4 linked regions of the Homo sapiens genome follow. The protein of the gene in region 1 purifies or fractionates together with the protein of each later gene. This does not show direct contact. Each region holds a gene or a part of one and is shown in the gene's direction. Other genes may lie near its edges.

Region 1 (3,302 bases):
GAGCTTCTCCAGTCGTGTGGTGTCTTTATCTGAATACCGCCAGAGCCTACACACTTACCTGCGCTCCAAGATGAGCCAAGTAGCCCCCAGCCTGTCAGCCCTAATTGGGGAAGCGGTGCGTCACAGGGGACTCAAAAATGGGAGAATAAGGACTGTTGCCATGTGCACCTGCACTGCTGTATTTCGTGACCCACCATGTCTTCCCTAGTTGTGCTTGATGGGGAGGTGGGGAGCAGGGCTGTCGTGCAACTGGGCAGGTCAGCAGTTCATTTCTCTGACTGCTTCCTTGACTCTCTCTCCAGGTAGGTGCACGTCTCATCGCACATGCTGGCAGCCTCACCAACCTGGCCAAGTATCCAGCATCCACAGTGCAGATCCTTGGGGCTGAAAAGGCCCTGTTCAGGTACCAGTGAGGGCACCTGCCCACAATCAGGTGCCACTTCTGGTGCCCACTGCTTGTTGGGGGATCACGGTGATGGCTGACCAGGGCTCCCTGACCTATACAGGCCTCTGCTATGGGGGTGATGGCCAGTCCTGGTGTCTGAGTGATTCCCAGGGCCCAGCAAAGGGACCAAGTTTCCAGGTCAGCGACATTGGATGCCTTCCCTCTGCCTCTGGGAGCTATGGGTTGGCATGCATTGGGGTAGAGATCCAATCTGGCCTGAGGCTCACTCAGGACTTCGGGGTGAGAGGAGGGGAGGAGCTGAGCTGCCTTGGCTAATGGGGTTGAAATTTCTGATCTTAAACTCTCCACTGAATATTCTCTCAGAGCCCTGAAGACAAGGGGTAACACTCCAAAATATGGACTCATTTTCCACTCCACCTTCATTGGCCGAGCAGCTGCCAAGAACAAAGGCCGCATCTCCCGATACCTGGCAAACAAATGCAGTATTGCCTCACGAATCGATTGCTTCTCTGGTATGGGTGGGGGGGCGTTGGCAGGTGTGAGAAGGGGCTGGGTGGCTGGGTGGGGAGGCTTGCAACCATAGCTTCCACAATGATGGCAATATTTTTCGTCAACAGCAGTTCACCTAGTGAGTGTTGAGACTCTGGGTCTGAGTGAAGCTGAGGGTAGAGGGAACACAGGGTTGGGGTAGTTTCTCTCTTTGGGCTGACAGGCTTTGTCACCCACACACATCCAGAGGTGCCCACGAGTGTATTCGGGGAGAAGCTTCGAGAACAAGTTGAAGAGCGACTGTCCTTCTATGAGACTGGAGAGATACCACGAAAGAATCTGGATGTCATGAAGGAAGCAATGGTTCAGGTCAGTTGGGCTTTGCTGGGTGTGGAGTGGCATAGCTAGCTGTTGGAGGTGATGAACTGTCTGAGCCTGACCTTGTAGAATGGAGGCAAAAAAACTGATTTAATGAGCCTGATCCAATAAAGCCAGAAAGGAGTCCTCAGAGCACCAGAAGTCTTCAGGCCCTTTTAGCACTTTTCTTTGACCAGGCAGAGGAAGCGGCTGCTGAGATTACTAGGAAGCTGGAGAAACAGGAGAAGAAACGCTTAAAGAAGGAAAAGAAACGGCTGGCTGCACTTGCCCTCGCGTCTTCAGAAAACAGCAGTAGTACTCCAGAGGAGTGTGAGGTCAGTAGGCAGCACGGCCCTGGCAGAGATCCTAGGTTGTAGGATTTTCAACAGCAGAACAAAGGATATGCTGCATCAAGCTGTGGTCTTGAGTCCAGGCTTTTGGACTGAAACAAGGACCTGAAACATCTAAAACTACCTCTTGATTCTATAGGAAGGAGATAGGTGCTGAACTTGCTCAAGAGCCCAGAGAGCTGGTTGTAGCTCACACCCGTTCCCTGGGCATGTGTGTTCTGTCCTCGGCTGCCTCCCAGGAGTCCTCAACCTGGGGTAGTGTAAATTCCTGCTCTGCTTATTATCAGACGTGTGTCCGGAGGTGGTCGTGTTTCACAGTGGGGATGGGGGCAGGGAGGTCCCCAATGTGCTAAGCTACAATCATTCTCCCTGAGATTTTCATTTAGCACCCAGTTTCTTAAACAGTGTTTCAGGGCCCTGTCTGGAACTTGGCATGATGGTTCTGTTGCGACCAGCATGGTGGGTGTTTTTTAGGTTTTTTTTTTTAATGGGCTGAGGTAATTTCTCATGACATGTTTTCCTTCTAATTTGGGACAGCCTTTGGGGTGGATTTCTAAAGTTATACCCACACAATTAAACTATCCCAGAAACACTGGGCAATGTTAACGACACGCGTTCCCCTGCCTTGGCTACTTAATTGCTGAAGATGTAATGAGCACTGTTCTCACAGCCTGTTCCCCTGTCCTTCCCTTTAGGAGATGAGTGAAAAACCCAAAAAGAAGAAAAAGCAAAAGCCCCAGGAGGTTCCTCAGGAGAATGGAATGGAAGACCCATCTATCTCTTTCTCCAAACCCAAGAAAAAGAAATCTTTTTCCAAGGAGGAGTTGATGAGTAGCGATCTTGAAGAGACCGCTGGCAGCACCAGTATTCCCAAGAGGAAGAAGTCTACACCCAAGGAGGAAACAGTTAATGACCCTGAGGAGGCAGGCCACAGAAGTGGCTCCAAGAAAAAGAGGAAATTCTCCAAAGAGGAGCCGGTCAGCAGTGGGCCTGAAGAGGCGGTTGGCAAGAGCAGCTCCAAGAAGAAGAAAAAGTTCCATAAAGCATCCCAGGAAGATTAGAATGCAAATGGACATTCTCTGGGAGGTGGGGCATACCATAGCCCAAGGTGACATTTCCCACCCTGTGCCGTGTTCCCCAATAAAAACAAATTCACAAGAGTTGGTTCATGTTCTTTATTGAACACCTTACATGGGTATGGACAGGGCCTATGGGTGGGGCAAGGCAGCAATGACAGCCTCAGTGAAGTCATGGCAAGTAGCATAGCCACCCATGTCAGAGGTTCGAACCTGTGGGGGAGAATCATCATCATCCATGTGGCCTGGGCTCCATCCTAACAATCCCCATCACCACCCAACAGTCTGTCCCCTAAGGAAGCCGGCCCAAGGACAACCTAGGCTCTACCCAGCAAGGTGACCATGGTCCACTGCTTAGAGGCACAAGGTCTCTTCCCTGGTACACTGCACTGAAGGGTATGGGGAGTGTGGTCCTTGCAAGGTTGGAAGAAATAAAGGGCTCTAGCTCCCTTTAGTCTGCAGGTGACCGATGACAGACTTGATGAAGTCGGTTGTGGTGCTGTAGCCGCCCATGTCTCGAGTCCGCACCTACAGCCACCACCGGCAACAGCCGTGGGGAGGGAGAAAAGAGAGCCCATGAAGGGAGGTAGGGCAATGTGATTGAGGAAATGGAAGCCAAGAATG
Region 2 (7,040 bases), on another chromosome or scaffold:
ATCACAGAGCTCATTCCTGCAAGTCTGGGCTCAGCCTCAGATCCTCATGCCAGCACCAGGCAGCCAATACCAATAGAATTGTTAGGTGAGATGAAACCTGTTTGCCATTCATAGATGAGAAAAGCTCATCTGGCTCCTTTAGCAGATGTTTGTTTCTTGCAGCCCCAAGACTAGCATCTACCAACTCCTCAGTCCTGGGGGCGGACTTGCCATCAAGCATGAAAGAAAAAGCCAAGGTGAGTGGGACTGCCTTCCAAGCTATTGCCTATGGGATTTAAGGTGCCTGGTAGGGGACAGTCTTACATGTCAGAGAAGGATAGGGTTGTGAGTAATTGCCCCACCTGGATTCAGAGCTCAACCTGTGTCACCAGTTGTGGGATCTTAGTCCCTTCACCTCTCTGGGCCTCAGTTTACTTTTCTATAAAGATAAGGATGATGCCTGCTGCAGTGGGCCACTGGGCACATTCTACACCTGGGGTAGGCGATTTCTTTCCTCTTTCATGCCTGCGTTCACCCGTTCACTCAACAGATCTTGACTAATACCTGTTATGTTCCAGGCACTGTGCTAGGTGTGGAGGCACCGTAGTGATCAAGACATCTGTGGTTCTGAAACTCTAAAAGCATTTTCCAAACTGGAAACTGCTCAAAAAACAAGGTGTCATTTTCTAATAATCCAGAAAGCAGAGTTAGATACATACATGTATAAAGAATTGTGCCTCTGCGATTGCCTGGAGCATTAGCAACAATGTCTCAAAGTAATTATGAAGTAATGATAAGATCAACAACAAACTGCTACTTACCACTTAGTAAATAACTACCATGTCCCAAGAACTGGGATTCTGTTTTCTCAACACCTCTGGTGAGAGGAGGTGCTGTTTTTAACCTCACTTTAAAGATTGGGAAACAGATTGAAGGGGTAGTTTACCCAAACTCACACAGCTAAGAAGTGGTAAGATTGGGTTCAGATGCAAGTGGCCTGTGCTCTTAGTTCACCATGCCATACCAGATGTGTCTGTCACTCTTGTTCTCTGTAGGCAGAGACAGAGAAAGCTGGCAAGACTGGGAATTCCATGCCACACCCTGCCACTGGGAAGACGGTGGCCAACCTTCTTTCTGGGAAGTCTCCCAGGAAGTCAGCAGAGCCCTCAGCAAATACTACGTTGGTCTCAGAAACTGAGGAGGAGGGCAGCGTCCCGGCCTTTGGAGCTGCTGCCAAGCCTGGTAAGAAGTCCCCACCTCTAGGAACCTAGTCCCCAGAACTTGGGCTGGTGAGGCAGGCCTAGGCATTGCTTTAAGTTCTGGGACATTTCTGGAATCAAAAGTTTGTCTCCAGGACAGCCAGGTTCCTGCATCTTAGGACTTTTCTCATCACCTAGACGAGGGAGGGTCAGCTTACAGGGACCTGGCCTCAGGCTGAACAGCCCACCTGGTGGTTGGAGCATTTTCTGCTTTATGACTCCCTGGTGAGTTACAGGGACAACTGGCAGCTCAGAGACTAAACTGAAAGGCCTGATTTGCCTCTGTTTCCTATGTAGAGTAGACATCTGTCTGGCCTGCATCAGTGGATATGATGGTGGATGGAGGTTCTGTAGACTGTCAGGTGCTGGTGCATATTTGTTGGGTCCCCTCACAGCCCTTCCCAGGGCCTCAGAGATGTGTGGGAACATAGGGATGGTGATGGTACCCACCTCAGAAGGGGGCTTCACAGCTCAGTGCATGTGAGGCACACGAGGGGTGAGCGCTCAGCACCTGGCTTTGATGAGCAGCTGGTTTGTGGGGAGGTGCTGGGGAGGGGCAGGTGAGGCTGGAAAGGGAGTCCCTCAGTCCCCTCCGTGTCCGATCCTCAGGGATGGTGTCAGCGGGCCAGGCCGACAGCTCCAGCGAGGACACCTCCAGCTCCAGTGATGAGACAGACGTGGAGGTAATTGCCACCCATCCCTAGGAGTTGCCCTCTCCCAGCCTCTAACCCTTCCAGGAACCTGTCTGGGGCTTCAGACACCAGTGGGCCCAGATGAGTTCAGCAACTGTGGTAGGGTGACCAGGAGCTGGAAAGGCTGCAGCCGGAGAGGGGCAGGGAGAGGAGTCTGGTGCTGCTTGCTGCACTCTGAGTGTGAGATCAGCCCTGGGGGCAGGAGAGGGACACCCTCCTGCCTGTGAGACTAGACAAGCCTTCCTGGGAGAGGTGCCCTGGAGTAGGGCCTCAAAGCACAGTGGGCTTCACTGGGAAGGGATGTGGAGGAGGCAGGGCATTCCAGACAGGAAATGGGGCAAGAACAGGGCCCAGAGGCAACAGTGTGGCTGTCGTGGTCTGGCTAGGGCTGCGGCTGCTGAGAGGGTTCTGGGCCAACTGGTGAATGCCAGGCCTAGACACTTGGCTAGAGTTGGGCAGGACTCTTGGGTTTGTGAACTTTGACCTGGAAAAGGTCTCCACAGGTTACTTTTTATTGTGTACCTACTAAGTGGCAGACCTGGGGAATATAGTGATGAGCAGGACAGGCAGAGTTCCTGCTGCCATGGGGCAAGGGAGCGTCCCTCAGATATTTAATTGGTGATGGCTGCTATGAAGTGGAAATGTAGAGGGCCACGCAGGGCAGGAACCTGACGTTGATGAGTAGGCGTAAGCAGAAGGAATGGCATGTGCAGAGAAGGCGGCAAAGAGAGTTTGGTGCTTTTAAAGAACATTGATCTTTTTTTAAGACAGTCTCACTGTGTCACCCAAGCTGGAGTGCAGTAGCGCGATCTTGGCTAGCTGCAACTTCCACCTCCCGGGTTCAAGCGATTGTCGTGCCTCAGCCTCCCAAGTAGCTGGGATTACAGGTGCACGCCACCACGCCTGGCTAATTTTTGTATTTTTTGTGGAGACAGGGTTTCACCATGTTGGCCAGGCTAGTCTCGAACTCCTGACCTCAAGTGGTCCATGTGCCTTGGCCTCCCAAAGTGCTGGGATTACAGGCATGAGCCGCCACGCCTGGCCAAAACCTTGATCTTTAAATGAGAGGGAGAAACCAGGCACGGTGGCTCGCACCTGTAAGTGCAGCACTCTGGGAGGCCAAGGCAGGAGGATCATTTGAGGCCAGAAGTTTGAACCCAGCCTGAGCAACATAGTGAAACCCTGTCTCTACAAGATGTTATTTTTTAAAAAAACAAATAAATTATGGGGAAAGTGACACAAGATGAAGTCCTAGGTAGACAGGGGCCAGATCTTCTGTCTGACCTTGAGGACCACCATAAGGAATTTGGGTTTTATTCTAGGGGCTGTGAGAAGCCATGCCAGCAAGGAGAGATGGCCTGATTTGCATTTAATAAGATTGCTGGCTGCAGCCTGGGTTGGAGGGCAGTGCAGAATAAAAGCAGTAAGACCATGTAGGAGACTATTGGAGTAATACTGATACTGGCATAAGAGGCTGGGGGCTGGGAGACCAAGGTGTCCACAGTTGGAAAGATGTTTTCAAGGGAAAACCAGCACAAGTCAGGGATGAACTGATCTGGTGCCCAGGGAACTTCTCACTTTACTGTGCTGCCTGGCCCAGTAACCCTGTGAAGGTTGAAAGCTCACCCCCATCTACCCCAGGCCTTACCAAGGGCTGCCCTCCACCTTCCGTCCTCACCCTTGCGCCCTAGATACCACCAGCTGTAAGGACATCCCTGGCTTCTGTCACCCCAGGCCTTGCCAAAGGGAAGAAGACCACTCCCAGCCCTCCATAAACACACAACCTCAATGGGCTGAGGCTGTGCAGAGCTCCAGTAGCAGACGCCCCAGAAACCCAGGGCCGCAAGGGGTCTGATGGATCTCAGAGGTAGAAGTAGGGCACTGACTGCCTGGGAAATGTCTGAATTGTGGAAGTGTAGGAAAGAGCTCACAGAGGGAAGGAATTTGCCCAAGGTGTGGCAAGCCAGTGGCAGAGGTGGTGTTCACATCCTGAACTCCTGGCCCTCAGGAGGGCTGCTGTGATCAGATACTTGAGTTTAAGGGGCAGACAGGATGCGCTCTCCTGATTGAGATGCAAGCCCTTCTCTCAGGCCAAGCCCGGTGTGTGCCAGGTGGGAGATGAACGTAATGGTTTTGAGATCTGTTCCAAAGTCAGACAGTCCAGGGTTCCAGTGGGGCTCTGTCCCTTCATATTGATCATGAGTGATTTTACCTCTTTAAGCCTTGTGTACTTTTCTGGAAAATGGATCTAAAGCTAATAGCCGTCTCAGGGAGTTGCTTAAAAATCCAGTGACATTAGGAAAGAGCTTTATCAACTGCTGAAGCCCCTAATACAGAACCTTAGGGGGAAACAGTAATTATTATTCATTTTCTAATTCCATCCTCTTGTTCCAGGGGAAACCCTCAGTAAAACCAGCCCAGGTCAAAGCCTCATCAGTTTCTACTAAGGAGTCTCCAGCAAGAAAGGCGGCCCCAGCCCCTGGGAAGGTGGGGGATGTGACACCCCAGGTCAAAGGAGGGGCCCTGCCCCCAGCCAAGAGGGCCAAGAAGCCAGAAGAGGAGTCAGAGAGTAGTGAGGAGGGATCTGAAAGTGAGGAGGAGGCCCCTGCAGGGACACGAAGCCAGGTGAGGCCTGGAGGAGGGCTGCCCCTTGGAGGACCTGCGGGTCCCCCAGCAGCCTGAGCACTCTGCCATGAGCACCTCTGCCACTGGAGTTGGGGAGAGGGAGGACTATGGTGTGAAGTTGAAGAGCAAGAACAGCCTGCTTCCCACAGGGGAGTCTTGCACTCCACTTTGTCTGTGACCAACTTTACCTCAGTTTCTCTGCCTAGTAAATGGGCCGCTGTCCTCGTCCCAGCCAGTCCTGCTGTGAGGGACTTGAGAAGTTTTGATTGCCTAATCCTCTGACTTCTCAGGACAAACCAGACCCTGAGCAGGCAAACACTACGTTAGCTAAAGGGAATCCAGTTCCCTTCCCCATCTGCTGGGAGTGGGCAGGGCTGCAGCCCCAAGGCCCTGGGTGTATCCCAAGGGCAAGACAGGGGGGCTGGAAAGCAATGGAAGTCAGAGCAGGAAGGAGGAAGAGTGAGGGTCACCCACCCAGCCCCAGGCCTGGGGCAGGACAAGGCGGGGGCATGCAGTAGATAAGCAGATCCCCTGCGTTAGCTGCTGGTAAATGGTAAAGAGGAAGTGGGGGACATAGGAATGGCAACTTGAAGCAGAGTGCTCTGGGCTGGCCTTGGGAGAAGGCGTCTCAGTAAAGACCAGAAGGAGGAAGCACTCTTAGGAAGGTCATTCCAGGCAGGGGCTCAGCAAGTGTCAAGGCCCTGAGGTAGAAGTAGGACTACGAATTGTGACAAATTGTTGTTCCCACCCCATCTACAGGGAACTTCTACGCCTCGGCTGTCTATTTTGCAGTGTCTGGGGGCTACACAGTGTTGGATGGGCATCCACTTTGAGAAGGAACACAAATGTGAATTTTTTTTTTGAGACAGAGTCTTGCTCTGTTGCCCAAGCTGGAGTGCAGTAGCGGCAATCATAGCTCACTGCAGCCTCACTCCTGAGTAGCTAGGAATACAGGCACACACCACCACACCCAGCTTGTGTGTGTGTGTGTGTGTGTGTATAGACAGGGTTTCACTGTGTTTCACAAGCTGTGGACTCAAGCAGTCCTCCCACCTTGGCCTCCCAAAGTGCCGTGATTACAGATATGAGCCACCGCACCTGGCCATAAATGTGAACTTTTATGTAAAATCTGCTTTCTCCATGTTGGCTCAAAAATTTAAAAAGGAGCTAGCCAAGCAAGACCTGTGTGGAGCAGCCTGCACTTTCTGCATGAGAAGCTTCTTAGAAGATCAGAGCTGCTGTTTTCTAGGGTTGTTGGCCCAGGGCTGAACACCCAGGGCCTTCCAGGGAAGACAGGGCCTGCAGCCACCCTGCCAAAGCCCCAAGACAGTGCAGAGCCCCACCGAGGAGTTAGTGAAGAGGGGGCCAGGTGTGCAAACCTTGCCCCATGAGGCTGAGGGTGGGCTTCCAGGGGTCCTGCTGCTGTCCATGTGCAGAAAGTCCAGTGAGGGCCTCCCTCAGTCCCTTCCCCACTTTCAGACTGCCTCTTCATTCCTTCCCTTCCCTGGGCCTTTGCACACCCCCTCCCCACAGCCCAGTCTGATGATGCTCCCGATAAGCCAGTGCCTGTGCCTCCAGAGCTCTCTGGCCAGTGGGAGCCCAGCAGAGGACAGGCTCTAACTACCCAGTGTGCTGGGGCACCAGGGGGAACCATGTTAAGGAAGTGGTGTCTCTTAGGGAGCCAGAGACAGAGGAGGCAGTGGCTAAGTGAAATGGAACAGGGGGCATGGAGGCTCCAGGAGTGAGAGTGTGTGAAGCTGATCGATTTTTGAGAAACCAGGAGGCCAGTGTGGCCAAAGTATCAGTCAAGGTGGGGAGTGGGGAGGGAAGCAGGGGAGGTCTTAGGAGCCTCATTAAGGCCTCTGGACTTTATCCTAAAGGCATCACCAGAGAGTTTTCACAAGCAGGAGAGCAAGCTGCCCTTTCTTTTTCACCAGGTAAAGGCCTCTGAAAAAATTCTCCAGGTCAGAGCTGCCTCAGCCCCTGCCAAGGGGACCCCTGGGAAAGGGGCTACCCCAGCACCCCCTGGGAAGGCAGGGGCTGTAGCCTCCCAGACCAAGGCAGGGAAGCCAGAGGAGGACTCAGAGAGCAGCAGCGAGGAGTCATCTGACAGTGAGGAGGAGACGCCAGCTGCCAAGGCCCTGCTTCAGGTGAGGCCTGAGGAGGGAGACTCCATGCAGCCAGGCCCGTCCCCAGAAGGCCTTCTCAGGACTTGTTCTCCCACTCTGGGCCAGAGCCCCGGGCGTGCCTCAGACCCCAGCCCCTTACTCCCCTCTCACTGTGTGGCATCATTTGCCCTATCTGGTCTTCTGTACGTGGTGTCCTGTGTCTCCTCACACGTCCATCCTCTGGGCTGTCTCCCCTTGTCTTGTTTCTCCAGGCGAAGGCCTCAGGAAAAACCTCTCAGGTCGGAGCTGCCTCAGCCCCTGCCAAGGAGTCCCCCAGGAAAGGAGCTGCCCCAGCGCCCCCTGGGAAGACAGGGCCT
Region 3 (5,475 bases), on another chromosome or scaffold:
TTTTTAATGGAAACATCAGAGATTTTGTCAACTGTGTTTGAGATTTAGGAGAACTATTACAATCGCTTTTACCTGTGTTGCTGAAGGAAGATAAAGTAGACTCTGTGGGTCTCGTCGTAGTGCTCTTTCCTCCCTGCTCGTCACACTGCAGTAACTGCAGTGCCTGGTATAGCAGTGGCCAGTGGGGCATTGTAGGGTGACCCACCAGCTCTCCTGGGAGGTCTCTCTTCTCACTTGATGCACTCAGGTCAGCTTGGCTGGGCAGGGATGTGACTTCTTACACTTCAGGTAGATGAGGACTCATGGACACAGAGCAACCTTATTTCCTCTTGCCATACTTTGCACGGTGATAAGCACACAGGTCCTTGAATGGAGATGCTCAGTCTCAGCGACTTAATTCAGAATATGCTTACTGGGAGTTCAGGGAGGGAGATGCAACAATTTTCCGTACTTCTGCCTCAGTGTCAGGTATTCTTTCTTGCCATATTTATTGATTGCCTGCTATGTGCCAGGCGCATGTATATATGCTGATGATGCACTGGTGAACAAAATGAAGTCTCTGCCTTCTTGGAGTATACATTCCAGTGGAGAAAGACATAGGTTTTATGCCTGGTGGTAAAGAATGCTGTAAGAGGCCGGGCGCGGTGGCTCACACCTGTAATCCCAGCACTTTGGGAGGCCGAGGTGGGCAGATCATGAGGTCAGGAGATCGAGACCATCCTGGCTAACACGGTGAAACCTCATCTCTACCAAAAATACAAAAAATTAGCCGGGCGTGGTGGCGGGCGCCTATAGTCCCAGCTGCTCAGGAGGCTGAGGCAGGAAAATGGTGTGAACCCGGGAGGCGGAGCTTGCAGTGAGCCGAGATCTCACCACTGCACTCTAGCCTGGGCGACAGAGTGAGACTCCGTCTCAAAAAAAAAAAAAAGAATGCTGTAAAACAGAATAAAGTAGAGAAGGGGGATAGGAATGGCAGTGGTGGGTCTTTTTAGATGGAGTATTCAGAGAAGGTCTGTCTGAGGAGTTTGAGCAGAGAACTGAATAGATGAGGGTGTTGGAAAGAAACGTTTTTGGGCATGGTGTAAAGGCATGCTTGAGGGATTCTAAGGAGGCTGGTGTGTGGCTGGAACTAAGTGTGGGGATGAGAGGTACTAGGAGATCACATGAGACCATGTAGGCCACTGTTAGCAGTGAGTACAATGGTAAATGAGTAGAAGGATTTTGAACAGCAAGATTGCTATGATCTTACTTAACACTTATAAAAGAGTCACTCCTATGACTTTTGTAGGGTGAGTAAGCTATAGTAATATCAATAGAAATGAACATGCTTTGCATTTGCCATGTGTCAGGTATTATTATTATTATTTATTTTACTTTTTTTTGAGATAGGGTCTTACTCTGCAGCCCAGGCTGGAGTGCATTGGCATTGATCATGGCTCACTGCAGCCACGACCTCCTGGGCTTAGGTGATCCTCCCACCTCAGCGTCCCAGGTAGCTGGAACTACAGGTGTACGCCACCACACCTGGCTAATTTTTTATATTTTTAGTAGAGATGGGGTTTTGCCATGTTGCCCAGGCTGGTCTCAAACTCTGAGTTCAAACAATCTACCTGCCTCAGCCTCCCAGTGGGCTGGGATTACAGGTGTGAGCCACCATGCCCAGCCTCATCATTCTTATTAACTGGTTTAATCCTTTCAATAATCCTATTAAGTAGAATTATTAGGTAATTAGAATTAGGTTAAAAAGAGCTGAGGTGTGGGTGTTCGTTTCTCAGGTGAAACATGGCTAAAAGCTTACGGAGTAAGTGGAAAAGAAAGATGCGTGCTGAAAAGAGAAAAAAGAATGCCCCAAAGGAGGCCAGCAGGCTTAAAAGTATTCTCAAACTAGACGGTGATGTTTTAATGAAAGATGTTCAAGAGATAGCAACTGTGGTGGTACCCAAACATTGCCAAGAGAAAATGCAATGTGAGGTAAAAGATGAAAAAGATGACATGAAAAGGGAGACTGATACTAAGAGAAACAAAAAGACTCTTCTAGACCAGCATGGACAGTACCCAATATGGATGAACCAAAGGCAAAGAAAAAGGCTGACGGCAAAGCGAGAGAAAAGAAAGGGGAAAAGCAAAGCAAAAGCAGTGAAAGTGGCAAAGGGTTTGGCGTGGTAGACTCTTAAAACCTTGGAAAATGCCACATGGGATAGATGATGGATTAGAATGTATATACATGTATACTTTGATTTCAGCTGCCACCAAATGAAAACCATTTGTTTTCCTATTTTAACTTGGCCTTTTTTCTTCAATTCAAACCCAGCATAACTCCTGAAGTTTGTTTTGGGAACTTGAATAAAATATTTTCTTTGATACAAAAAAAAAAAAGAATTAGGTTAAAAAGAATTAGGTAATTCTTTTTTTATTAGGTAGAATCCTGTTAGGTAGAATTATTTTATAGATGATAAAAGTAAGGGAAGTTAAACACCTTGCTCAAGGTCATTTGTGTAACAAGAATGAGTGCCAGCATTTGCACTCAGACAGTGTAGCTCTAGAGTGTGTGCCCTTCTCAAGTACTCCAGCATGAATGCAGAGTATTCGCACTGAGCCACAGAGGCAAGCAGTCAGGAGAGTACGCATCTGAAACGGTGCTGTGGGGTGTTGAACTTGCATGGTGAGTCGCATGTGGGATCAGCTTTCTAGAAGTATTGATTATGGCAGATTGAGATGGTAAAACTCTGACTCTCAGTCACAGATACCTTGAGAAATACTATATTATTAATATACTACTACTTGCTGGTGGGGGTTTGTGGAAGCTGTTGCAGTTGACAAGGTAAGAGATGATGGTGACTTGGACGAGTATAGCAGAGGAGTAGAAAGAAGTGGTCAGGGCCAGGCGTGGTGGCTCATGCCTGTAATCACAGCACTTTGGGAGGCCAAGGTGGGTGGATCACAAGGTTAGGAGTTTGAGACCAGCCTGGCCAACATAGTGAAACAAAAAATTAGCTGGGCATGGTGGCAGGCACCTGTAATCCCAGCTACTTGGGAGGCTGAGGCAGGAGAATCACTTGAACCTGGGAGGCAGAGGTTGCAATGAGCCAAGATTGCGCCATTGCACTCCAGCCCGGGCGACAGTGTGAGACTCCATCTCAAAAAAAGAAAAAAAAAAAAAAAAGAAAGAAAAAAGTTGTCAGATTAGGACAGGCACAGTGGCTCATACCTGTAATTTCAGCACTTTGGGAGGCCGAGGTGGGTGGATCACTTGAGGTCAGGAGTTTGAGACCAGCCTGGACAACATGGTGAAGCCCTCTCTCTACTAAAAATACAAAAATTAGCTAAACACAGTGGCACGTGCCTGTAATCCCAGCTGCTTGGGAGACTGAGGCAGGAGAATCACTTAAACCCGGGAAGCGGAGGTTGAAGTGAGCCAAGATCGCACCACTGCACTCCAGCTGTGTGACAGAGCAAGACTCCATCTCAAAAAAAAAAAAGAAGAAGAAGAAGTGGTCAGATTCAGGACGTGTTTTGAGGATAAGTGGTGGATTTAATGTAGGGCTTGAGAAAATGCCATTGTGTATGACTGACTGGTGTTTGAATCCTTTATCATATCCCAGGGCCGGTCTAGGACACATAATTGTGTGTGCCTAGGCATTCTTCCCAGTTTGTTGTGGCTGCCCTGCCCAAGCCCACATCACCTATTAGCTTCACGTCCTTCTCTCCGCAGCCACCAAAACCCTCAACAGGGGCATCTCTGAGTTCATCGTGATGGCTGCAGACGCCGAGCCACTGGAGATCATTCTGCACCTGCCGCTGCTGTGTGAAGACAAGAATGTGCCCTACGTGTTTGTGCGCTCCAAGCAGGCCCTGGGGAGAGCCTGTGGGGTCTCCAGGCCTGTCATCGCCTGTTCTGTCACCATCAAAGAAGGCTCGCAGCTGAAACAGCAGATCCAATCCATTCAGCAGTCCATTGAAAGGCTCTTAGTCTAAACCTGTGGCCTCTGCCACGTGCTCCCTGCCAGCTTCCCCCCTGAGGTTGTGTATCATATTATCTGTGTTAGCATGTAGTATTTTCAGCTACTCTCTATTGTTATAAAATGTAGTACTAAATCTGGTTTCTGGATTTTTGTGTTGTTTTTGTTCTGTTTTACAGGGTTGCTATCCCCCTTCCTTTCCTCCCTCCCTCTGCCATCCTTCATCCTTTTATCCTCCCTTTTTGGAACAAGTGTTCAGAGCAGACAGAAGCAGGGTGGTGGCACCGTTGAAAGGCAGAAAGAGCCAGGAGAAAGCTGATGGAGCCAGGACAGAGATCTGGTTCCAGCTTTCAGCCACTAGCTTCCTGTTGTGTGCGGGGTGTGGTGGAATTAAACAGCATTCATTGTGTGTCCCTGTGCCTGGCACACAGAATCATTCATACGTGTTCAAGTGATCAAGGGGTTTCATTTGCTCTTGGGGGATTAGGTATCATTTGGGGAGGAAGCATGTGTTCTGTGAGGTTGTTCGGCTATGTCCAAGTGTCGTTTACTAATGTACCCCTGCTGTTTGCTTTTGGTAATGTGATGTTGATGTTCTCCCCCTACCCACAACCATGCCCTTGAGGGTAGCAGGGCAGCAGCATACCAAAGAGATGTGCTGCAGGACTCCGGAGGCAGCCTGGGTGGGTGAGCCATGGGGCAGTTGACCTGGGTCTTGAAAGAGTCGGGAGTGACAAGCTCAGAGAGCATGAACTGATGCTGGCATGAAGGATTCCAGGAAGATCATGGAGACCTGGCTGGTAGCTGTAACAGAGATGGTGGAGTCCAAGGAAACAGCCTGTCTCTGGTGAATGGGACTTTCTTTGGTGGACACTTGGCACCAGCTCTGAGAGCCCTTCCCCTGTGTCCTGCCACCATGTGGGTCAGATGTACTCTCTGTCACATGAGGAGAGTGCTAGTTCATGTGTTCTCCATTCTTGTGAGCATCCTAATAAATCTGTTCCATTTTGATGACAGAATGGCAGTGCCTGATTCTTAGTAAGTATCCGGCTAAAATTGGAATGAAGACATACTTAGCTTTACTAGAGTGGTGATAGCTGCTTAAGACTTTTTTTTTCTTCTTTGTGAAAGAGTTTCACTCTTGTTGCCTAGGCTGGAGTGCAATGGCACGATCTCGGCTCACTGCAGCCTCTGCCTCCTGGGTTCAAGTGATGCTCCTGCCTCAGCCCCCAAAGTAGCTGGGATTACAGGCGTGCGTCACCACGCCCAGCTAATTTTGTATTTTTAGTAGAGACAGGGTTTCACCATGTTGGCCAGGCTGGTCTTGAACTCCTGACCTCAGGTAATCTGCCTGTCTCAGCCTCGCAAAGCGCTGGGATTACAGGTGTGAGCCACCACGCCTGGCCACTTGCTTAGACTTTTTTTTACCAGAAGGCTATGGAAGAGCTGTCTCCTCCTACCAGGTAGTTTCTACCTTGGCAGTTCAAAATGTCGTCTTATACACACTCAACTGGAG
Region 4 (7,040 bases), on another chromosome or scaffold:
TGCTACCTGTTGTGTAGCACTTTTTAAGGCAGATGAATAATATGTATTTCATTTAAGTTGTTTAGCAACTCAGTGGACTGTGAAGAACAAATACAATTTCAGTTTTATGGATGAGGTAACAGGCCAATGAAATAGGACACTGGGATTGTGTAAACATCTCCAAATCAGACTACACTAATAGGTCAGTCACTTTAAAAAATACTTAGAATTCTATGGGTTAGGTGTACGTGTCAATCTAAATGTATAGAAAGATTTCCTCAATGGAGCAGACAATGTTAAGCACTTTATAAATCAAAGAGCTGTTACTGTTGCATGGCACAGGCAGAGTTATGTCTATTATGTGATAAATCACAGTGGTTGTTCCAGTATTCACATTTGGGGATGACAGCTATAGCTTTGTGGCACACAGCAGCAGGTTGATTTCACCAAGCTGTTGATAGGGAAATGAAACAAGCTTTAAATATGTACTATGTGTCCATCTGTACTCTCCATGATAAATAATCCCCTTTTTACTATTCCTTTGTGTGAACTTCTGTCCTTTCAATGATGCCTTTTGTCTTTATTTTTCTTGAATAAAATTATTACTCAGGGACTCTGGAAGAACTGATTGTGATTTTCCTCTAGGGATTTAAAGATAGCCCTACATGTAGGTTACTGTTTAATCAAATCAGTATAGGTCATTCTTAAAACTACTGAGTTAAGGAGGAGCAGATTGTTTATCCTAGGAAGTTATTCTGCCTATGTGAGTATATAAAATGCGAATTTCAGTCAATTTGGGCTATAAGGTCTGGAGAAGAACTCTTCTTAGTTATGAAAATGTTAGCATTAATTTTAATAATGAATTTATGTGTTTATTGTTGTTTTTTTTCAACCTTTGTCAAGGAGTGGATTTTTTGTCTTTTTTTTGAAGGTGGTCTTAGATTAACTTCTGTAAAATTTGTTTCGTATTTAAGTCTTTTTTTTTTTTTTTTTTTTTGAGACGGAGTCTTGCTCTGTCACCAGGCTGGAGGGCAGTGGCGCAGTCTTGGCTCACTGCAACTTCAGTCTCCTGGGTTCAAGTGATTCTCGTGTCTCAGCCTCCCAAGTAGCTGGGATTACAGGCACACGCCACCATGCCTGGCTAATTTTTGTATTTTTAGTAGAGATGGGGTTTCACCATGTTGGCCAGGCTGGTCTTGAACTCCTGACGTTGTGATCCGCCTGCCTCGGCCTCCCAGAGTGCTGGGATTACAGGCGTGAGCTGCCATACCCAGACCGTATTTGAGTCTTGAAGAAAGCATTCTTTCTTATTGGTCTTAACTAAAGGGTCTTTTATATTAAAAAATTAGAAACAATTGTAAGATATTTTAGAGGCTACAGAGTAGTCTTGTTACCAGTCCATGTCATACTTCAATATTTGTACAAAAAGACGGTACATGTAATCTAAAAGAGTAGGTATTGCCAAGTAAATTGTATTTGGATTTGATATACTAATATTATTTTAATTGTTAATAAGAAAAAGAACCTTATGGCCAGGGATAGGAGGAAGGGGATTTAATAAAGAATGAGAGTTATTACATTGGATTGAAATAGGTTATCAAAAGCTTAGAGACGATACCAGGAAAATTCTCTTTGGGTTATATTAGTAAAGTTTGTAGGAATAAGCTGGGCACAGTGGCAGGGCACTTGTAATCCTAGCTACTTGGGAGGCTAAGGTGGGAGATTGCTTGAGTCCAGGAGTTTGAGCCTTGCCTGGGCAACAGAGAGACTCTGTCCCTTTCTTTTTTTTTTTTTTTTTTGAGACAGAGTCTTGCTCTGTTGCCCAGGCTGGATTGCAGTAGTGTCATCTCGGCTCACTGTAACCTCCGCCTCTTGGGTTCAAGCGATTCTTTTGCCTCAGCCTCCTGAGTAGCTGGGATTACAGGCATGCGCCAGCACGCCCAGCTAATTTTTGTATTTTTAGTAGAGATGGGGTTTCACCATATTGGCCAGGCTGGTCTTGAACTCCTGACCTCAAGTGATCCACCTACCTCGGCCTCCCAAAGTGTTGGGATTACAGGCCTGAGCCACCGCTCCTGGCAAAGACTCTCTTAAAGAAAAAAAAAAAAAAAAAAAAAAAAAAAAGAATTGGTAGGGGTAACTGGATATAAGGTGGTGGACTATTTACAGGATACCATAAGCCATAAGCTCATGGTCCATAGTTGATATGTATTAGAAGTAGAAGATTAGTGGAAACAATTAATTAATTTTGAACATAAATGAAGCATACAAAAGGGAAATTTGGCATACTTAGAAGTGTCATCAAAGAGACTTAAAAAAAATAAAGGGACTGGGTGTGGTGGCTCACGCCTGTAATCCTAACACTTTGGGAGGCCGAGGTGGGCAGATTGCCTGAGCTCAGGAGTTCGAGACCAGCCTGGGCAACGTGGAGAAACCCCGTCTCTACTAAAATACAAAAAATTAGCCAGGCGTGGTAGTGGGCGCCTGTAGTCCCAGCTACTCTTGGGAGGGTGAGGCAGGAGGATTGCTTGAACCTGGGAGGCAGAAGTTGCAGTGAGCCAAGATTGTGCTACTGTACTCCAGCCTGGGTGACAAAGTGAGACTCCGTCTCCAAATAAATAAATAAATAAATAAATAAGTAAAGGTTGGCTGGGCACAGTGGCTCATGCCTGTAATCCCAGCACTTTGGGAGGCTGAGGTGGGCGGATCACGAGGTCAGAACTTCGAGACCAGCCTGACCAACATGGTGAAACCCCGTCTCTACTAAAAATAGAAAAATTAGCCGGGTGTGGTGGCACACGCCTGTAATTTCAGCTACTCAGGAGGCTGAGGCAGGAGAATCACTTGAACCTGGGAGGCGGAGGTTGCAGTGAGCTGAGACTGTGCCACTGCATTCCAGTCTGGGCGACAGAGCGAGACTCTCTCTCAAAATAAAGTAAATAAATAAAGGTTGTGGCTTATGAGTGAGGTCATTAGGACCACAACAAGGAATTTAGCAGTGGTATAAAGCAACAAAGCAAATTTTGCTATAGGTCCATCATTCTCTACTTAAAAATTGAAAATAAAAGCCTGGCTCAGTAGCTTACGCTTGTAATCCCAGCACTTTGGGAGGCCAAGGCAGGAGGATTGCTTGTGCCCAGGAGTTTGAGATTAGCCTGGGCAACATAGTGAGACCCTGTCTCTACAAATAATGAAAAAATTAGCTGGGGATAGTGGCATGTGCCTGTGGTCCCAATCCTCAGGAGGCTGATGCAGGAGGATCACCTGAGCCAGGGAAGTCGAGGCTGCAGCGAGCCATGATCACACCACTGGGCTCCAGTTTGGGTGACAGAGTGAGACCCTGTCTTAAAAAAATGCAAATAAAACACTGTTTCAGAGTTAGTGTTTATAATAAAATGTTTTCCCTCTGATTATCATCTGCAATCTATTACTTTATGACTATACTGTTATTCACAACGTTTTAAATATTCCTGATGATAATGAAAAGAAGCTTATTTATAAACCAATACCAAATGGTTAGGAATTCACTTTTACTAAATGAATGCCTTTTTCTTTCTCTTGCTAGTGCCGAAAACATTTGAAGAGTCGGAGATTAGTCAGTGCAAAACAGCTTGGTGTGGATAGAATTGTAGATTTTCAATTTGGAAGTGATGAAGCTGCTTACCATTTAATCATTGAGCTCTATGATAGGGTAAGTTAAATTTGTGGGATATGGTGAAGGAAAATTTCTTATTAATCATTTTGTAATAGTGCTATATAACATGAGTGGGGGAACATTTTTTTTCTGTGTCAAAGGTTGTTACTACCCTAGGAAATGGGTGCCACACAAATAAAATAAAATTTTCCAGTAATAACCTTCATTTTATCTGTAGGTCTGAGTTTAGGCAGACTTTAGCCATTTAGAATAGCCTTATGAATGTAGGAGATGAAGATCTGAGAAGTAAATTATTTGGTACTTGACATTTCAGGACTAATATGCAACCAGAAAATAGTCAAATACGGTCATGCACTGATGCGCTGTATGTATAGTGATGTTTCAGTCAACAACAGACTGCATATAAACGTTGGTCCTGTAACATTGTAATGGATCTAATAAATTCTTACTGCTTAGTGACATCTTGATCCTGACTCTGTGTAGGCCTAGGCTGGTGTGTGAGTTTGTGTGTTAGTTTTTAACAAAAACATTAAAAGTAAAAACAAAACAATTTAAAATGGAAAAAAAGCTTAGAGAATATGGATCTAAAGAAAGAAAGTATTGTACAGCTGTACGATATGTGTTTTAAGCTAAGTGTTATTACAAGAGTCAAAAAGCTAAAAAGTTTAAAGTTTATAAAGTAAAAAAGTTCCAGGAAGCAAAGGTTAATTTATTATTGAAGAAAGAAAAACATCTTAAAAATAAATTTGGCTGAGCGCAATGACTCAGGCCGGGCACAGTGGCTCACACCTGTAATCCTAGCATTTTGGGAGGCCGAGGAGGGCGGATCACCTGGGGTCAGATCACCTGGGGTCAGGAGTTCAAGACCAGCCTGGCCAACATGGCAAAACCCCGTCTCTATTAAAAAATACAAAAATTAGCTGGGCGTGGTGGCGGGCACCTATAATCCCAGCTACTCGGGAGGCTGAGGCAGGAGAATCACTTGAACCTGGGAGGCAGAGGTTCCAGTGAGCTCAGATTGTGTCACTGTGCTCCAGCCTGGGCAACGGAGCAAGACTTTGTCTCAAAAATAAACTAACTAACTAACTAACTAACTAACTTAATCTGGGCCAGGTGTGGTGGCTCACACCTGTAATCCCAGCACTTTGGGAGGCCAAGGCGAGTGGATCACCTGAGGTCAGGAGTTTGAGACCAGCCTGCCCAATGTGGCAAAACTGCATCTCTACTAAAAATACAAAAATTAGCCTGGTGTGGTGGTGCGTGCCTGTAGTCCCAGCTACTCGGGAGGCTGAGGCAGGAGAATCACTTGAACCTGGGAGGCAGTGGTTGCAGTGAGCTGAGATCATGCCATTGTACTCCAGCTCAGGTGACAGAGTGAGATTCAGTCTCAAAAAGGAAAAAAAAAATATATGTGTGTGTGTGTGTGTGTGTGTGTGTGCGCGCGCGTGCGCGTGCGTGTGTATGTATATAAATAAATAAATACATAAATTTAATCTGGTCTGAGGTAAGCATAATTTTTTTAAAAATTAAAAAATAAAAAACAAATTTAGTGTAGCCCAAGTGTGCAGTATTTATCAAGTCTACAGTAGTATGCAGTAATGTCCCAGGCCTTCACATTTACTCACTGTCACTCACCCAGAGCAGTTTTCAGTCCTGCATGCTCCATTCATGGTAAGTGCCCTATACAGGTGTTCCATTTTTAATCTTTTATACCAGGGATCTTCAACCCCTGTGCCGCAGACTGGAACTGGTCTGTGGAACCAGGCCACACGGCAGGAGGTGAGCAGTATGCGAGTGAGCATTACTCACCTGAGCTCTGCCTCCTGTCAGATCAGTGGTGGCATTAGATTCTTATAGGAGCGTGAACCCTATTGTGAACTGTGCATGCAAGGGATCTAGGTTGCATGCTTCTTGCGAGAATCTAATGCCTGATGATCTGAGGTGGAACAGTTTCATCCGGAAACCATACCCCTGCACCCCCCATCCATGGAAAAATTGTCTTCCATGAAACTGGTCCCTGGTGCCAAAGGCTGGGGACTGCGGTTTTTTTTTTGTTTTGTTTTGGTTTTTTTTTTTTGATACAGAGTCTCACTTTGTTGCCCAGGCTGCAGTGCAAGGGTGTGATCTCAGCTCACTGCAACCTCTGCCTCCCGGGTTCAAGCAATCCTAGTGCCTCAGCCTCCTGAGTAGCTGGTATTACTGGCATGTACTACCATGCCCAGCTAATTTTTGTATTTTTAGTAGAGATGGGGTTTCACCATATTGGCCAGACTGTTCTCAAACTCCTGACCTCAGGTGATCTGCTCGCCTTGGCCTCCCAAAATGCTGGGATCACAGGCATGAGCCACTGCGCCCGGCCTGGAACTGTTGTTGTAATACCATATTTTTACTGTACTTTTTCTATATTTAGATGTACTTAGATACACAAATACTTGCTATTGTATTACAGTTGACTACAGTATTCAGTAACATGCTATACAGATTCCTAGCCTAGGAGCAATAGGTTATATCATATCTTTGGTGGATGTATTAGGCTACACCGTCTAGGTTTGTGTAAGTATACTCTATTACGTTCACACGACATCGAAGTTGCCTAAATGCATTTCTTAGAATGTATCCCCATTGTTAAGCAATGCATGACATTGGGTCTGCCTTCTTTTATGCAATATTTTTTATTTTTTTGAGATAGAGTCTTGCTCTGTTGGCCAGGCTGGAATTCAGTGGCATGATCAGGGCTTACTGCAAACTCGGCCTCCTGGGCTCAAGTGACCCTCTTGCCTTAGCCTTTCATGTAGCTGGTACCACAGATGTGCACCACCATGCCTGGCCAATTTTTTTATTTTTTGTAGAGACAGACTCTCACTTCGTTGCCCAGGCTGACCTTGGACCCCTGGCTCAAGCAATCTTCCCATCTCAACCTCCTAAGGTGTTGGGATTACGGGGGTGAGCCACCACGCCTGGCTCTTTTATTCAATATATAATGTCTGTGAGATTCATTGATGTTGAAAATTCCCTTAGCTCCACATCCTTAGCAACATTTGATATGATCTCTTAGAGCTCTTTATCTAATCTGATTATGAGCCCTTTGCTGATTATTTGTGTAGTAAATGTCCTTTTCTACTCTAACCTGAGTTTTTACTCTTTCTTTTTTTTTATTTTTTAATTTTTTTTGAGAATAAGTCTCACCCTGTCGCCAGGCTGGAGTGCAGTGGTGTGATCTTGGCTCACTGCAACCTCCGCCTCCCGGGTTCAAGCGATTCTCCTGCCTTAGCCTCCCGAGTAGCTGGGATTACAGGCACCTGCCACCACGCCCAGCTAGTTTTTGTACTCTTAGTAAAACAGGGATTCACCATGTTGGCCAGTCTGGTCTTGAACTCCTGACCTCAGATAATCTGCCCACCTTGGC

Evidence for each region.
Region 2: the proteins of NOP56 (region 1) and TCOF1 purify together in Homo sapiens (affinity purification with western blotting; 2 studies listed by BioGRID, with this or other methods). This does not show direct contact.
Region 3: the proteins of NOP56 (region 1) and SNU13 fractionate together in Homo sapiens (co-fractionation; 3 studies listed by BioGRID, with this or other methods). This does not show direct contact.
Region 4: the proteins of NOP56 (region 1) and NEMF fractionate together in Homo sapiens (co-fractionation; 2 studies listed by BioGRID). This does not show direct contact.

What each region holds. Positions count from the first base shown.
Region 1 is NC_000020.11:2,655,632-2,658,933, forward strand, and holds the end of NOP56 (nucleolar protein 56), read left to right. Parts: coding exon 1-115; intron 116-302; coding exon 303-403; exon of another isoform or gene 404-583; intron 584-769; coding exon 770-918; intron 919-992; exon of another isoform or gene 993-1,063; intron 1,064-1,142; coding exon 1,143-1,264; intron 1,265-1,307; exon of another isoform or gene 1,308-1,379; intron 1,380-1,449; coding exon 1,450-1,587; intron 1,588-1,741; exon of another isoform or gene 1,742-1,857; intron 1,858-2,297; coding exon 2,298-2,663; 3' UTR 2,664-2,762; downstream 2,763-3,302. Other genes in the region: IDH3B (isocitrate dehydrogenase [NAD] subunit beta, mitochondrial isoform e precursor), read right to left, coding at 2,878-2,891, 3,128-3,206. UniProt on the Homo sapiens protein: Involved in the early to middle stages of 60S ribosomal subunit biogenesis. Required for the biogenesis of box C/D snoRNAs such U3, U8 and U14 snoRNAs. Part of the small subunit (SSU) processome, first precursor of the small eukaryotic ribosomal subunit.
Region 2 is NC_000005.10:150,367,682-150,374,721, forward strand, and holds part of TCOF1 (treacle protein), read left to right. Parts: intron 1-162; coding exon 163-236; intron 237-1,034; coding exon 1,035-1,221; intron 1,222-1,847; coding exon 1,848-1,921; intron 1,922-4,324; coding exon 4,325-4,555; intron 4,556-6,492; coding exon 6,493-6,705; intron 6,706-6,935; coding exon 6,936-7,040.
Region 3 is NC_000022.11:41,673,433-41,678,907, reverse strand, and holds the end of SNU13 (NHP2-like protein 1), read left to right. Parts: intron 1-1,747; exon of another isoform or gene 1,748-1,782; coding exon of another isoform or gene 1,783-2,166; exon of another isoform or gene 2,167-3,706; intron 3,707-3,712; coding exon 3,713-3,975; 3' UTR 3,976-4,975; downstream 4,976-5,475. Other genes in the region: protein LLP homolog, read left to right, coding at 1,783-2,166.
Region 4 is NC_000014.9:49,842,770-49,849,809, reverse strand, and holds part of NEMF (ribosome quality control complex subunit NEMF), read left to right. Parts: intron 1-3,544; coding exon 3,545-3,670; intron 3,671-7,040. UniProt on the Homo sapiens protein: Key component of the ribosome quality control complex (RQC), a ribosome-associated complex that mediates the extraction of incompletely synthesized nascent chains from stalled ribosomes as well as their ubiquitin-mediated proteasomal degradation.